3 linked regions of the Homo sapiens genome follow. The protein of the gene in region 3 interacts with the protein of the main gene of each other region in a biochemical or structural test. Each region holds a gene or a part of one and is shown on either strand. Other genes may lie near its edges.

Region 1 (2,654 bases), on a different chromosome or scaffold from region 3:
CATACACATGCCCCGTAATTCCCAAATTGCCACAATAGGAAAAGCACAAGTGAAATTTAAGAACATCCCAATTTCCTTGAATATCATGCAAGTGGCCCTTTGGCGCCTGTCACTGTATACAAATTTGTCAATCTGCGAGGCCATAAACATGTTCCATCAGTTGGGGCCTTTGCATAACTCGAGAGAACTGCCTTTCATCTCATTTGAGGCTTGAAAGACTTGGACCTGAGTAAGAGGACTTATCTGCAACTACTAATTCATGCGAGTACCTGAAAATAGACCTTGTCCCTGTAAACCTGCTATGCTGATTAACAACTGGGAGAGATACGGGGCTGCGGTCTCCAGGGAGATGGCAGCCATATGGAGTTGGGAATGGGGTGAGGGTAAAAAGCAAAAGAATTGTCTTCTCTCTGCCAACTCCTTTGTTTGCCATTTCTTCTGCAGTGGAATGGTGCCCAGCAAAAGCAGGGAGTCTGTGGCATCTGAAGGCTCAAACCAGACAAGCGGCTACCAGTCCGGATATCACTCCGATGACACAGACACCACCGTGTACTCCAGTGAGGAAGCAGAACTTTTAAAGCTGATAGAGATTGGAGTGCAAACCGGTAGCACAGCCCAGATTCTCCAGCCTGACTCGGGGACCACACTGAGCTCTCCTCCTGTTTAAAAGGAAGCATCCACACCCCCAACTCCTGGACATCACATGAGAGGTGCTGCTCAGATTTTCAAGTGTTGTTCTTTCCACCAGCAGGAAGTAGCCGCATTTGATTTTCATTTCGACAACAGAAAAAGGACCTCGGACTGCAGGGAGCCAGTCTTCTAGGCATATCCTGGAAGAGGCTTGTGACCCAAGAATGTGTCTGTGTCTTCTCCCAGTGTTGACCTGATCCTCTTTTTCATTCATTTAAAAAGCATTTATCATGCCCCCTGCTGCGGGTCTCACCATGGGTTTAGAACAAAGACGTTCAAGAAATGGCCCCATCCTCAAAGAAGTAGCAGTACCTGGGGAGCTGACACTTCTGTAAAACTAGAAGATAAACCAGGCAATGTAAGTGTTCGAGGTGTTGAAGATGGGAAGGATTTGCAGGGCTGAGTCTATCCAAGAGGCTTTGTTTAGGACGTGGGTCCCAAGCCAAGCCTTAAGTGTGGAATTCGGATTGATAGAAAGGAAGACTAACGTTACCTTGCTTTGGAGAGTACTGGAGCCTGCAAATGCATTGTGTTTGCTCTGGTGGAGGTGGGCATGGGGTCTGTTCTGAAATGTAAAGGGTTCAGACGGGGTTTCTGGTTTTAGAAGGTTGCGTGTTCTTCGAGTTGGGCTAAAGTAGAGTTCGTTGTGCTGTTTCTGACTCCTAATGAGAGTTCCTTCCAGACCGTTACGTGTCTCCTGGCCAAGCCCCAGGAAGGAAATGATGCAGCTCTGGCTCCTTGTCTCCCAGGCTGATCCTTTATTCAGAATACCACAAAGAAAGGACATTCAGCTCAAGGCTCCCTGCCGTGTTGAAGAGTTCTGACTGCACAAACCAGCTTCTGGTTTCTTCTGGAATGAATACCCTCATATCTGTCCTGATGTGATATGTCTGAGACTGAATGCGGGAGGTTCAATGTGAAGCTGTGTGTGGTGTCAAAGTTTCAGGAAGGATTTTACCCTTTTGTTCTTCCCCCTGTCCCCAACCCACTCTCACCCCGCAACCCATCAGTATTTTAGTTATTTGGCCTCTACTCCAGTAAACCTGATTGGGTTTGTTCACTCTCTGAATGATTATTAGCCAGACTTCAAAATTATTTTATAGCCCAAATTATAACATCTATTGTATTATTTAGACTTTTAACATATAGAGCTATTTCTACTGATTTTTGCCCTTGTTCTGTCCTTTTTTTCAAAAAAGAAAATGTGTTTTTTGTTTGGTACCATAGTGTGAAATGCTGGGAACAATGACTATAAGACATGCTATGGCACATATATTTATAGTCTGTTTATGTAGAAACAAATGTAATATATTAAAGCCTTATATATAATGAACTTTGTACTATTCACATTTTGTATCAGTATTATGTAGCATAACAAAGGTCATAATGCTTTCAGCAATTGATGTCATTTTATTAAAGAACATTGAAAAACTTGAAGGAATCCCTTTGCAAGGTTGCATTACTGTACCCATCATTTCTAAAATGGAAGAGGGGGTGGCTGGGCACAGTGGCCGACACCTAAAAACCCAGCACTTTGGGGGGCCAAGGTGGGAGGATCGCTTGAGCCCAGGAGTTCAAGACCAGTCTGGCCAACATGGTCAGATTCCATCTCAAAGAAAAAAGGTAAAAATAAAATAAAATGGAGAAGAAGGAATCAGACATAATTTCCATGTGGTTGTTTTACATTTTTACTGGTTTTCTTACTCTTCTTATAAGGGATATTTTCATAAACTGATTATATATTTTACAAACCAATAAATGTATTTGTAGTACAAAGTATGAGGGTATAATATCACCACAACTATTTTGAGGATAAGTATGTCTGGTTTAAAGTTTAACTGCTTCTTCCCTCTTCTTCTTCATTACAAAGAATTCACACACACACACACACACACACACACACACACACACACGCCACGCATACACCCCCCAACACCCACACCTCCTCCCAGCCCCCCCACACC
Region 2 (7,076 bases), on a different chromosome or scaffold from region 3:
ATACAGTCTTAAATAATGAGGGTTTCCTAGCAATGCCAAACATTCATTTTCTTGCTTCTCTTTTTGTTACAATTCATGGTTCTGGCAGAAGTCATACAGCAGTATAGCATTTGCATGCGGTTGAACGTGGTGATTGGCCAATATTTTGAAAAATTAACTAATTAATGTTACTGTTAAAATGGTAGATATGAAGTTATAACACATGAAACATAATACTGATTATTTATGTTAGCAACCAGGTGGACAATGAATGCTAGAATTGCTAAGTTTATGTTTTATTTACACATTAATAAGGTGTAATTAAATTTCCAAATATTAAATAAAATGTTTATGCTTTAAAAAAATAACTTTTCAGTGTTTATATTCATTGTCATAATTTGTATTTTGCATTTTAATTCTAATAGATAACTTTAAATCATTTGAAAGAAAACTTTTAACAACTATAGAAAAATAATTCTAATTTTCTGAAATAAAAAAAGGAATTTACATTTGTGGTGTAAGTACAAACATTTTGTATGATTTGACTACATTAATCCTTTATTTATTTATTTTTTAGAATTGGGATTTCATTCTTTACCCAGACGGAGTGTAGAGTGCACAGCTCATTGCAACCTCAAACTCCTAGGCTCAAATGATCCTCCAGCCTCAGCCTCCTGAGTAGGTGGGACTACAGGGATAAACCACCATGTTTGACTATTTAAAAAACTGTTTTGTAGTGACAGGATCTTGCCATGTTGTCCAAGCTGGTCTAGAAATCCTGGCCTCAAGTGATCCTCTGGCCTCTGCCTCTTGAGTCGCTGGGATTACAGGTGTGAGCCACCACATGGGGCCTGAATAGATGAATCTTTTAGATCAATGTTGTTCAATAGTGCTTTCTATGATGATGGACTTGTTTTCTCTCCATGTTGTACAATACATTAGCTCTAGCCACATGAAGCTACTGAGCATTTGAAATGTAGCTAGTGTCACTGAGGAACAGAACACCTGAAATGCTGTTAGGTGCTACCATACAGAACAGCAAAGCTTTCAATCACCGCTGTCAATGGAACACAAATTAAGTGAAAATCTCAATTATAACAACACAGTGATTTTACTAAAGAGAAATATCAATTTTATAGAATAAATATATATGAATCATGTATATTACTTATCCATATAGCCTATCAAAGAAAATCTAGATATGTATAATGTCTAGCAGATATGCATAATTCAGTTGCTGATATTTTGCTTTTTGTCATATAAAATCTGTAGGTTTTATATTTCAATTTTATTGTTATATGTGTCAAGGTAGGAATATACATAGTAGTTTGCTAGCTTAATTAATAACTTTGAAATATTAGGCATATGGTAAGTGGCTATGCATTTGTACTCTTGCCCAAGCCTACCAATGTCAGGGGCTGGCCTGACAGCACCCCTAACTCTGAGCAGCCATTCTGCAAATGTCACTATTGTCCTCAGTGAGTCAGGAGTGAAATGTGGTTAAAACTAAATCTCTACTGCTGAAAAAACAAGTCAAAGCAAATGTCCCACTGGGAGGATTCCTACAGCATCCCTTCCTTAGAGGAAGTCCAATCCATTCATTTCAGCAGAGGACTTCCATTTAGGCTCAAAGGCTGCTCTGACCAGTTACCTGTAAGAGGGAGTAAACTAACAGTAGTTGTCATGAATTGAGAGGGCAGAAGCTGCTGGCAAAAATCCCACCACCCTTTGAAATGTGGATGGAAGGCTGCAAAGGGTAGAGTCAACTTAACAGTGTAAAGATAGAGAACAGGGGTAATAGAAATTTACAGACCCTCCCACTAAGCTTTAAGTAACAGGCAGAAGGGACAGGGTTTGTAGAGGTTACCAAGAGGAGTCCTGTGGCAGCAGCAGTTGGAGTACTGGCAGGGATTTCTGTCTAATGCCTCAGTGGCAGGTCCGTAGAGTGGCCCTTTCCTCTTCCATCCAGCTCCTCATCGTCCCCCCGCAGGGGGATTGAGTTTCCCTTGCCCATAGTGGTAACCTGCTTATTGACACATCTCATATCGATGTCTGCTTTTTTTTTTCTTCTCTGTCTTGCTGTCTCACCTTCCTTATAGTGCTTTCTGGGATCACTTCCCCAATTCAAAACCACTTATAGTTAAATCCTAACCTCCAGGTCTGTTTCTGAGGGAGCCCAGCCTAAGACAACCTCCAGTACTTAGCACAGTGCCTGACATATGGTATTGACTCAGTAGATATTTGCTGAAAGAATAAAATACTTTGCAAATGAAATCCTACCCTAATATTAACTTCACCTAATTTAAAGAAGTTACTCTGAAGCAAAGTGATTAGATCAACTTTTGTCTCCCTAGCTTCCACCTCTGTCCTCCCACTAGCAGAAAAACTCCATTGGAAAGCCTATTACTAATTTTTTTTAAAGCAAATTTGAACTGCAGTATAGAACACAAGTACATCAAAATGGAAAGCCCAGGTTGCAGATTTGACCATCCTCACTTGCTGATCTTGAAGACATTGCTTCCTTTCTGAGATTTCAATGTTCATTTCACAATTAAAGATAAGGTTCCATAAGCACATAGTTGGGAGAAGTGGCAGGACAATGTAAGCTCATATTAACAAGCAAATGATTAATATAGAGACTTCTAAAGAGCAGGTCTGGTAAGTATCTAGTAAGTGGACTTCCTGAAGTAAGAGGAGTGTTGGTTGCCACACTAAAGGCAAGTCTTCTAGTCCCCAAATTTGCCTTGGGAGGATGACAGCTGTATCTTTCTTGGTTCTGGTGTACAGTGGAGAACAGGGTCAAGATGAGTGTGGAATCCATTTATTTTTTTACGTGTTTATAAGCACTAGAAAGCAGTGAGCACTAAGCAGAGGACCCCTCTTGCGGAAAAAGTGCAGGAGAGCTCCTGGGTGCCTCTGTATCACCGGTTTGCCTTCTAGCCAGAATCATTGCTAGAACCCTGTCACTCAGTTACTTTGGTTCCTAATTTAACCTCTTCCCAAGCCTTCTATTGCGTTCAGTTAGCTAGGCCAGGAGCTTACAGCTGTCTGGTTGGTGCTGGCTCAATGTGCTTATTCCCTGGAAGATAGAAGGATCACTTACAAAAAAATTTACAATTAAAATAAAAAAATTATTTTTTGCTGAAGCATTGTAAGGTTTTTTTAATTCACTCAGACCCAAAATCGTAAAACTAAAATATTTCAAGACATTACTTGATTCACCCCCCACTTCTCTTTCTCCCCTGTTTCTCAGCACTTTGCACCAGATACAGAAACCACGGGTTATGTCCAAACCCTGGTTTTGGTGTGACCACCGCCTTCCGTGTACTGCCTGCGGCTCGCTTCGGGCCCACACGGGACACCGAGGCATGATGAGGACGCAGAACAGCAGAAGCGCGCCCTGCTTCCCGGGCGCCAGTGCTCGGGGCCAGCGGCGTGTACCCGGCGGGCCCGGCCGGGAGCGGGCTGGCGATCGCGGGGCTCGGCGCTCCCGGCTCCCGCGCCATCTCCCGGCGCCCGCCAACTTCGCTCCGCCCGCGGCGTAGAGAAGCTCGCAGCCCTCCGGAGCCTCAGCGATCTCCTGGCTCGCTTTTCCCGCAGCCGCCGAGCAGCGCAGGCCCGGCGACTCCGGGTGCAGCTGGCCCTGTGCGGTGACATCGCCGTCCGGCGCCAGGCTCGAAGCCGCCTGGCCGCGCCCGCGGGGTCGCAGGCCGCTGGTCCCGCCCGGCCGCGCTCACAAACTACTCGCGGCTCGTGACCCGGGACAAACTTCTGGCGGCGGCGCAGCCTCTTCCACAGTCACCCTCCCCAGAGCCAGCTACCAAAATAGAAGACGCGGCCGGGGCGAGGAGGTGGGCGGGGGGAGCCCGGTGGCCGCTCCTCCCCGCGCGGCTGACGCCCGCTTCGGCGGCGGTAGTGGCTGTGGCCGCGGGGCCGCCCCCAGCCGAGCTCCCGGAGGCGCTCGGGCGCGGGCCGGCGGGGCACGGGCGCTCACGCCCTCTAGCGGGCCGCGGCGGCGCCGGGCGGCCGTGACGTGAGCGCTCCCTTCAGCCGGCCTGCGGGGCACCGCCAGTCAGTCGGGGAGCAAGAGCCCCGCGCGCAGCCGGCGCGGGCTCGGTCATCGGCGCGCCGCCGCCCGGGGCTGGGCTTGGGGCTGCCTGTGGAGAGGCGGCGGGCGGAACGCGCGCGGCCACGGCCACGGCCACCGCCACGGCCACGGCCGGCAGCTCGGGTCCCGGGTCCCGGGCAGGGGAAGGGGAGAGGCGGCGAGCTCAGCAACCGGAACCGAGGGAAGATTTTGGCTCCGCGGGCTCGCCCTCCGCTCCCTCTGCCAGCGGCGCCAGACGCCGAGTGGGGCCAGGGACAGGGGAGGAGGACCCAGGACCCTGTGCCCGCGCCCCTGGAGCCGCTGGAGTTCGGACTTCTGCAACTGTTGGCACTTTGGGGGCTTGGCTTAGCGCTCTGCTGTTTACCCGTCTCTCCTCGCTGCCTCGGAACCAAAGCTCCCGGCCCCCTCCGCCCTCGCGCGCCCACCCACCGCCGCCGGGGAGCGGCCCGGCCCGCACTCAGCACCATGAGGGGACTTGGGACTTGCCTGGCGACTTTGGCCGGACTTTTGCTAACTGCGGCGGGCGAGACGTTCTCAGGTAAGCGGGACCGCCTCTGCCGCCCCCGAGGCGCGCGGGCCGGCGCGGGACGCCCGGGACGCCGACAGCTCCCTGGTGGTAGAGCCCTAAGGCTGGCGTCGGGGCCGGGCGGGGGGCGCGGCGGGCCGGACACCGCTTCTGCCTGTGAGCCGGGCGCTGGGCGAGGGGCCGTGGGGCTGGCAGGCACCCAGTCCTCGGGCGGGCGGAGCGGACGGACCCCGAGGGCGAGCTCCCCAGCCGGGACTGCCAGCTCGGCCGCCGTCCTTCCGCGGCCTGGGCTAGTGCTCAAGGTTGGGCGGCTTGCACTCTTGAGTCCCTGGCCGGCTGCAAAAGGAACAGCAGAAAACTTTGCTTGAAGTTCCCAGTTGCAGCCGCCGGGCCGCCTGGCGTAGGCGCTGCGCGGTCCCCGCCGACCCCGAGCAGCGGCCGGGCCCAGGCCGCTGGTGTTCGGCTGCGCCCGCAGCGATCGCCGGGAACTGGCGGCCGCTCCGGCGGCGGCGATCTCCCGGTGCCCTGCCCTCCCTGTCGCCCCCTGCCCGGCGCGGCTGGCGACCCCGGGAGGTCCCCGCGGTCGTGCAGCGTCTGCGGAGAGGCTGGGGGGAGTTCCTCGCCGGTCCCAGCGGTAGGGCTTGGCGGCCGCGGAGGGAAGCGGGCAGGTCCCCAGGCCCTGGCCACGGCCCTGCGCCCCGCTGGGCTCCCCCTCCCCACCCTCGTCCCCCTAGCGGAGCGCCGCGGCCAGCTGCAACTTGTTCATCCAGCCCGGCTGCCCGGGGGTCCCAGGTGGGAAGGAGAGGCACTGGCGGTGTGCGAGCAAGCGTGTGAGTGTGTGCGCGTGTGTGCCTGCACGCGCGCGCGGGGGCGTTCTAAGCCCAGAGGAACCCCTCACGGAGAGGATCTGTGGATCGGAGTCGGGGGTCCGGCGTGGGGGCGAACCCGGCACGCTGTCACAGGGGTTTACAACCAGGATGACCTTTATTACCTGGGTGACACAGGTGGATAGACGGCAAATGCTGGCCCATTTGCACACCTTCTTTCTAGTGTTTATTAGATTAGTTTCATTAAGGTCCACATGCAGTGGGGGCGGTGGGCTTTCTTTTTCTTTAATAAAAAAGCCTGCTCTTTGGTCTTAAACTTGGTTTTTGCAAAATAGGTCTCTGCGTTTGGGAACAAGTGAGTTGAATGAGTAAGTTGGGCTTTTTAAGAATTTAATGAAGAGGACTTTCATAAACAGTAAAGAGCATATTTTAAGCAGTAAAAACCTTTGGTCCTCCGGTGCGTGGAAACCTTTTTATTTTCTTGGGGTCCAGGACCATTGGCTGCTGGAGCTCTGGACTCACAGGCACATTAGTTGTGTCTTGTGTGTTGCTGATCTGCAGGACCCTTGATCACAGTTGGCCTCAGAGAAGGAGTGGAACGTGTAGGTTTTGAAACCCAAAGCATCAACTTCAATACAGAAATATCCTTTCTCCAAGTTTTGTGTTTCCCTAACTGCCTGGTAATTGCACGTGCTCCAGAGGATTTAACACAATGATGCACTGTCGTCTGATTATAAAACTGATGCAGAATTTGGTCTGTGTTCTTATTAGTGAATAATAGAGTAGAATTTGAGAGCCTTGTAACTCATTAGTATTAGAAGCCAAGTATGAGAGCCCTAGTGATGGTTTTCTCTTTATTAACATCCATGACTCCCTTCTTGGGATTTGTTTAAAGTTAAGCTGTGTCAAATATCATTTGGATGGATTTTTAAATTGTGTGCAAGGGAGTGGAAACAAATATTTATATTGCTTATTTAAACCATGGGTTCCTCATCACCAAAAAGGATTTCAGCCTCAGTTGTACTGACCCATGTCCTTGTTAAGGCTGATGTAAATGATCAGTCAAGCCAAAATAGACTTCTACTAAAATTTAGCCTGATTTTTCATTTGGAAGAAATATATCTATTTGTTTGAGTTAATCATACCATTAAGTGAAATGTGTTTTCTTTTCTATCTAGAAAGCCAGAGTTATCCTGGCATGCTAGTGGGTAAAGGGCAGCATCCAAGCCATGCCTCAGAAACGTTGAACTTTAAAAAATGTAAAATTGGATTAGCTGGGTGTGGTGGCGTGTGACTGTAGTCCCAGCTGCTCTAGAGGCAGAGGCAGGAGGATAGCTTGAGCCCAGGAGTTTGAGGTTGCAGTGAGCTATGATTGCACCACTGCACCCCAGCCTGGGTGACAGAGTGAGAATCCGTCTCAAAAAAAAAGTGAAAAGTGAAGATGGCAAATTTCATATGTGCAAGGATCAGATATGTTTCACTTCATTATTTATTTTTCTCTCCATATTGCGTTTAGGTAGTACAGGTGTGAATCAGGGTTTTGTTTTTTGTTTTTGTATGTTGAGGAAGTTAATTCTGAATGCTAGGAGTGGCATTGACACATTTCTTTTTTATGTTTCTTCCAGAAATTGTAGTA
Region 3 (7,039 bases):
TTCATTGCCAAAGTGCTGAAGGACTCGTTGCATGAGAAGTTCCCTGATGCTGGTGAGGATGAGCTGCTGAAGGTAAGAATCTCATAGCCGGCAGACTCCTGCCCTTTGAGGACAAAGCAATAAAACCAGGGCTGACCATAGATCATTACTAACTGCCTAAGTGTAGGTTCTGGCAGTAGCTTACCATTGATTGTGAGCTTTTGAAAGCAATTGTAATTGGTAAATGGTACCTCTCTTAGGATGAAACACTTCCTATAGTTTGGCACACAAACATCAAACAAGTAGAAAGATGGATTTTTCCTGTTTTCAGATGAGTTTCTTTGAGTCCTATCTTTTCGCTGTAGTATTGTTCCCTCTGCTGGTGACCTGGCGAATAGTAGCAGGCACAGTTGTTTCTGCTAAGGCTGTTGCTGATAACTCTTTCTTACTCAGCTATGCTCTTCTCTTTTCTTTTTTTTTTTAATCTGAATGCTTTTTTCTTCTCTCTCCTAGTTCTGTGCTTTCCTACAGTGAGGCCTCGATTCTAGACTTTCTGTTCAGGTGAATTAATTTTATTTCTTCTGAATGAAACTCTAGGGGAAATGCTGTGACTGCCCCTGAATTCTTCTGTGGAAGAGATGTGTGTTAAGTGAATTTAATTTCAGAGGCATGAACTTGGCCTTTGAAGTCTGCAGCATGAGAATGTTGGGAGGTGGGGTTACTCTATGCTGATTGGGTCATGTTAAGGAATTTAGCTATGTTTGTTAGCTTTTTATAAGGAAAGCCCATCTACATGAAAGTACAAAGTGCATGTGGGTGACAGCAGCCTTATTTGCTACCATGATATGTGAACAAAAGATGCCCTGAAATACTTAATAACAGACTTTAAGTGTGTCATTTTTACCTTCTGAATCTGCTCTTTCATTAACTACTGGCAGTAGTTTTCAGTTCTGTTCTCATTGTTTTCCTGTATTGAACAAAGGGATATTTCATTTAGTTCCAGGCCATGAGAGAGAGTGTGTATATGTGCATGCATGCGTGTGTATATGTATTTTTTATTTATTTTTTCCTCATAGGACTGCATTTTCTGCTTTTCTTTGCTAGCAAAGTCATTTATAGCTTCCTTGGTGGTATGTCTTTTAATACCCATCTTTCTGTTTCGTCTGTTCCAGATTATTGGTAACTTGCTTTATTATCGATACATGAATCCAGCCATTGTTGCTCCTGATGCCTTTGACATCATTGACCTGTCAGCAGGAGGCCAGCTTACCACAGACCAACGCCGAAATCTGGGCTCCATTGCAAAAATGCTTCAGCATGCTGCTTCCAATAAGATGTTTCTGGGAGATAATGCCCACTTAAGCATCATTAATGAATATCTTTCCCAGTCCTACCAGAAATTCAGGTAAGGGGAAAGGCACAAGTGCTTAAGAGAGTCTGTGGATGTATTTTTATTGTTGAGGGGAAAAATAAGATTAAAAACCACCTCTCACTTTCCCCGGACTGCCATATGTAGAAGACGTGTTTGATGTGCCCAGGATTCCAGAAGATGATCCATTTACTTTGAAGAGAATTTTCATATGAAATAGATAGTAGTTAACACTTATGAAATAGATAGTAGTTAACATAAAAATAATGATGATTATGCATTTAGTACATGTTACCTTGTAATCAGAGAAGAATTGGAGAATGCTTTTAATTTTTGTAAATTAACATCTAGTTTTGAATTCAGTGCTTCAGAGCACTGTCTTAGAGATAGAATTGGTTCTCCTAATGGTGTCTGGAAACTTTTAAGTCATGGTGCAATGGTTCTTATGGGTAAAACTAAAACTACAAACTAGGTGGAGAAAGAAGTTATTCGAACCACTATCCCAAGGTTGTCAAGCACAGCAAACACACAGCACTTTCTCTTGAAGTAACTGTTGACTGGCTTCTGTTTGCACTCATTGTGTGAGAGGTTTGTGAAATGTCCTCTTGCCAACTTCATGTGTATGTCCCTTTTTGGGGGGCTGCCTCCTGTGCTTATTTCAGACGGTTTTTCCAAACTGCTTGTGATGTCCCAGAGCTTCAGGATAAATTTAATGTGGATGAGTACTCTGATTTAGTAACCCTCACCAAACCAGTAATCTACATTTCCATTGGTGAAATCATCAACACCCACACTGTAAGTATTTTTCTTTAATTACTTAATTTCATTGTCCTTAATTATTATCCCTGGCTGCTGCTTATCATCTCTGGTAGCCAGGTGTCTAACCTTCCTGTAATCTAACTGACAATGCATCTCCTTGATGTCTCTTTTTTTGCTTGTTATTCTTTTTTGTTTATTTATTTATTTTTTGAGACAGAGTCTCACTGTGTTGCCCAGGCTGGAGTGCAGTGGCGCGATCTCGGCTCACTGCAAGCTCCACCTCCTGGGTTCACACCATTCTCCTGCCTCAGCCTCCCGAGTAGCTGGGACTACAGGCACCCGCCACCGTGCCTGGCTAAATTTTTTGAATTTTTGGTAGAGACGGGGTTTCACTGTGTTAGCCAGCATGGTGTCGATATCCTGACCTCATGATCTGCCCACCTCGGCCCCCAAAAGTGCTGGGATTACAGGCGTGAGCCACCACGCCTGGCCTTTTGCTTGTTATTCTTAACAGTATCTACTGCTAAGTTTCTAAAAGGTCTTCCCAGGCCACCTGCATCAGAATCCTATGGGCTGATAGTTAAAAATGAAGTTTCCTGGACACCGCCCCAGGCCTACTGAATCAAAATCCCACTAAATTTATCTATTGCCTTAATAAAATAGTGCTTTTACTCTTCTTTCTTTTTACCCTAGCTCTCTGCGTTATTTTTCTAACATGATCTAGAATACTAGCTTTCTCTGTGTAGCCTTGGAGTGGATTTTTCCCTTGGAAGCTGGAGCTCCATGTTTCTTCAGATTTTTCAAATCATTTTTTCCCCTCTGGGGACATGGACATGTAAAACAGGAACAAGGGCATATGTTAAAATGTAAATGAAATTTCAGGTTACTGTCATTTCTGAGGGCATCACTGGGGATAATGGCACCTTGAAGACTTTGTTGAGTGCCCCTACAATAATTATAACATTGATTTGGTATACTTTTCTCTGAATTAAATCATGTCATACACTGGAAACATTAAGTAAAAGCGTGCACGTGACTTATTTGAACTGGCAGTAGGGTACATTGATGACTTTGGGTATTGAACTTTGAGTTTCAGTGTTTTGTGGGTTTTTTGTGTTTGTTTGTTTTGTTTTGTTTTTTTGAGATGGAGTCTTGCTCTGTCACTCAGGCTGGAGTGCAATGGCGCAATCTTGGCTCACTGCAACCTCCACCTACTGGGTTCAAGCAATTCTTCTGCATCAGCCTCCCTAGTAGCTGGGATTACAGGCACACACCAGCACGCCCAGCTAATTTTTGTATTTTTAGTAGAGACAGGGTTTCATCATGTTGTCCAGGCTGGTCTTGAACGCCTGACCTCAGGTGATCCACCCGCCTTGGCTTCCCAAAATGCTAGAATTACAGACGTGAGCCACTGCACCCAGCCAGTGTTCTTTCTCAAACAGGGCACATTTGAATCCTTTATGGCCATGAGGTTAAGAGAATACCAGTATTTCCTCTTCTTATATCATAACATAAGTCATTCAACAGAGCCTGGTGTGGTGCCTTATATATCATATTGTTTATTTGGGTTAGTTTGCTGAGGATTTGCTTGTTGTTTCTTTGAATATAGGAACTTTGTTGGAACCTCTTTGTGCAGATCATTGTTAGACATTCTAGGGAGGGACGGGCTGAAGAGTTGAATGTATAAATGGAGTTGATCATTGGTGTTTGCAGCTCCTGTTGGATCACCAGGATGCCATTGCTCCGGAGCACAATGATCCAATCCACGAACTGCTGGACGACCTCGGCGAGGTGCCCACCATCGAGTCCCTGATAGGTAGAGTTCTAACTTTTGCCTGGAAGATCAAAAGGGAATGTGACAGAAAAGTGTTGTAATTGTCACCTCCTCTATTTTTTGCACTATACCAAACTCTGGATATACATTGAGAAATAAAATAGATGTGATCCTGATAGTTTCATAAGAGAGAAAACAACAACAACAACAAAAGCCCAGATGTGATCAATATCTATAAGGAACTGGAGTCAGAGGAAAAGATCATTTTAAACGCAGATACATACTGCCAGCTTGTGTTTTTTTAAAAAAATTGCAGATACATAAATTAAAAGTCCTCTAAAGGAAAGAATTTTTTTGTTTGTTTGTTATGAGACAGGGTCTCCCTCTGTTGCCCAGGCTGAAGTACAGTGGTGCAGTCATAGCTCACTGCAGCCTCAAATTCCTAGGCTCAAGTGATCCTCCTGAGTTGTTTTTTTTTTTTTTAATAGAGATGGAGTCTCACTATGTTGCCCAGGCTGGTCTCGAACTCCTGGCCTCAAGCCATCCTCCTCCTTTAGCCTTCCAAAGTGCTGGGATTGCAGGACTGAGCCACTGCACCCAGCCAGAAAGAATGTTTTCAGAGAGAATTGTGATATTGTAGTGTTGAAATGATTTCTCAAACATTTATGGAGTTATTATGGATCCCTTGCCTTTATCATTTGGCATAACATTTTATTTCTCAGTAAAAGTTGTTCTCGTCACACTGTATGTGTTAGGTGATTCAAGTATTATCTTAGACTTGCATCATCTTATATTTGTATTATTTCCCCCCAATATCTCCTCTCTTTATTACGCTGACTCTTTCCACCCTCCCAAAACTTCAGGGGAAAGCTCTGGCAATTTAAATGACCCAAATAAGGAGGCACTGGCTAAGACGGAAGTGTCTCTCACCCTGACCAACAAGTTCGACGTGCCTGGAGATGAGAATGCAGAAATGGATGCTCGAACCATCTTACTGAAGTGAGTATCAAAAGAAGGAAGAATGAAATGAATGTAATCTGAAGGTTTCTTGGCCTTTGGAGAGGAACCTGCTGGGTCCTACCTGAAATGACCATCCTGACCTCTCGTACTTGTCATAATCCCAGTCACCAATCACCTCGCATATTGTACTTGGTACAGGACTTATCTGCCTTATTTTGCTAATATGCTACAGTGAAATGTAAATCTTGGAAATCCTAACCCTCGTACCTACTTATGGAATGGCTGGGTAAATAAGCCTTGTGCCTTGAGTACTGTGTACTGGCAGCTGCCGCTTGGGACTTCTGTGAGGTACTGTTTGTGCTGCTGCTGCTGCTGCTGCTTCGGTCCACTTGAGAGGAACTAGAACACTGGTAATATTTAAATGCCTCCCCCATCTCGTTTCAGTACAAAACGTTTAATTGTGGATGTCATCCGGTTCCAGCCAGGAGAGACCTTGACTGAAATCCTAGAAACACCAGCCACCAGTGAACAGGTAAAATTTAGGGTCTAACATACTCCTTTGTTTGGTAGATAAGCTCTCCCGATAGGCGCATGTCAGAGAAAGGAGGGGAGACACAAATAACAGTTGGTAGCCTAGGGGTGAGCATGAATGTAACTGGGGGACAGTGGTAGTTATGGCTCGTCTGAGAAAGTTTTTGCTTCCTGAGTCCAGGTGATGTCCTTTGGACAGGAAGCTCACTGGCACTTGCATGCAGAATCATTGTGCCCATCCCGTATATCCATCCCTTGGTATCCACAGGCGATTCTTTCCAGCACCCATTCTCCCCACCCCCGGCCAATACCAAAATCCATAGATGTTGAAGTCCCTTATATAAAATGGTGTAGTATTTGGCCGGGCATGGTGGCTCATGCCTGTAATCCCAGCACTTTGGGAGGCTGAGGTGGGTAGTTCACGAGGTCAGGAGATTGTGACCATCCTGGCTAACACGTGAAACCCCGTCTCTACTAAAAATACAAAAAATTAGCCAGGCTAGGTGGTAGATGCCTGTAGTCCCAGCTACTTGGGAGGCTGAGGCAGGAGAATGGCATGTACCCAGGAGGCGGAGCCTGCATTGAGCCAAGATCGCACCACTGCACTCCAGCCTGGGCGACAGAGCGAGACTCCGTCTCAAAAAATAATAATAAATAAATAAATAAATAAATAAATAAATAAAATGTTGTAGTATTTGCATATACTTACGTTCTCCCATATACTTTAAATCATCTCTAGACTACTTATAATACCTACTACAATATAAATGCTGTGTAAATAGTTGTTACTGTATTTTTAAAATTTGTATTATTTTGTATTGTTGTATTTTTTTTTCAAACAGTTTCAGGGTTGGTTGAAACCATGAATGTGTAGGGTTCACTGCAATTTATTGAATATTATATATTTTGAATTCTGTTACATGCCTTGGTAGATAGAAGAAAAGTACAGAATGTGGCTCCTAAACTCAGTGAACCCATGGTCTTGTTGGGGAAATGTGACATATATACCTGAAACAGTGATGAACTGTTTCAAAATTAACTATGTTACTGACTGAAAAATAAGAGAAGTTTCAGGAAAGAGGCCAGTGAAGCAGTGCATTAGGAAGCTTCCTAAAAGAAGTGGAACCGGAGCCAGATGTATAAAGGTGGAAAGGATTTGGGTGTGCATGTAAGACAAGAGAGGGCATTCGAGGCAGGAGAGCGATGTGAACAAAGGTACAAAGGAGGGAAGAGCATGATGCGACTAGACTACATGTCTAGAATGGAGCTGTGGGTGGAGGTGAGTAGTGAGAAATAAAACATGAGACCAAATTATTTAGAACTCACAAACTAGATGGGAATTTGTCACTGCAGAGATAAGGAATAAAGAGCCTCTGTAAGGTTGAAGACCATTTAATAAAAGTTAATTAATTCAGCAGTGCTATTAGAGCAGATGTAGTTGAGTCATATAGGTGTGTGATAAGGTCCAGTGGGGTGGGCAGATGGTTGGGTCCTGGCATTTTGTAGGGTTGGATGAGTCATGTCATATCTAAGACCCTTGTTTCTTTTTTTTTTTTTTTTTTAATTTGAGACAGAGTCTCACTCTCACTCAGGCTGGACTGCAGTGGCGTGATCTTGGCTCACTGCAACCTCCGCCTCCTGGGTTCAAGCGATTCTCCTGCCTCAGC

The links. Proteins that work in one complex are often made in the same cells at the same time.
Region 1: the proteins of IQGAP1 (region 3) and KDR form a complex in vitro, tested with the Homo sapiens proteins (one study listed by BioGRID).
Region 2: the proteins of IQGAP1 (region 3) and PTPRM form a complex in vitro, tested with the Homo sapiens proteins (one study listed by BioGRID).

What each region holds. Positions count from the first base shown.
Region 1 is NC_000004.12:55,077,954-55,080,607, reverse strand, and holds the end of KDR (vascular endothelial growth factor receptor 2 precursor), read left to right. Parts: intron 1-444; coding exon 445-667; 3' UTR 668-2,127; downstream 2,128-2,654. UniProt on the Homo sapiens protein: Tyrosine-protein kinase that acts as a cell-surface receptor for VEGFA, VEGFC and VEGFD. Plays an essential role in the regulation of angiogenesis, vascular development, vascular permeability, and embryonic hematopoiesis.
Region 2 is NC_000018.10:7,563,267-7,570,342, forward strand, and holds the start of PTPRM (receptor-type tyrosine-protein phosphatase mu isoform 1 precursor), read left to right. Parts: upstream 1-4,049; 5' UTR 4,050-4,552; coding exon 4,553-4,625; intron 4,626-7,076. UniProt on the Homo sapiens protein: Receptor protein-tyrosine phosphatase that mediates homotypic cell-cell interactions and plays a role in adipogenic differentiation via modulation of p120 catenin/CTNND1 phosphorylation.
Region 3 is NC_000015.10:90,482,210-90,489,248, forward strand, and holds part of IQGAP1 (ras GTPase-activating-like protein IQGAP1), read left to right. Parts: coding exon 1-72; intron 73-492; coding exon of another isoform or gene 493-513; exon of another isoform or gene 514-540; intron 541-1,151; coding exon 1,152-1,384; intron 1,385-2,010; coding exon 2,011-2,143; intron 2,144-3,820; coding exon 3,821-3,923; intron 3,924-4,744; coding exon 4,745-4,880; intron 4,881-5,285; coding exon 5,286-5,373; intron 5,374-7,039. UniProt on the Homo sapiens protein: Plays a crucial role in regulating the dynamics and assembly of the actin cytoskeleton.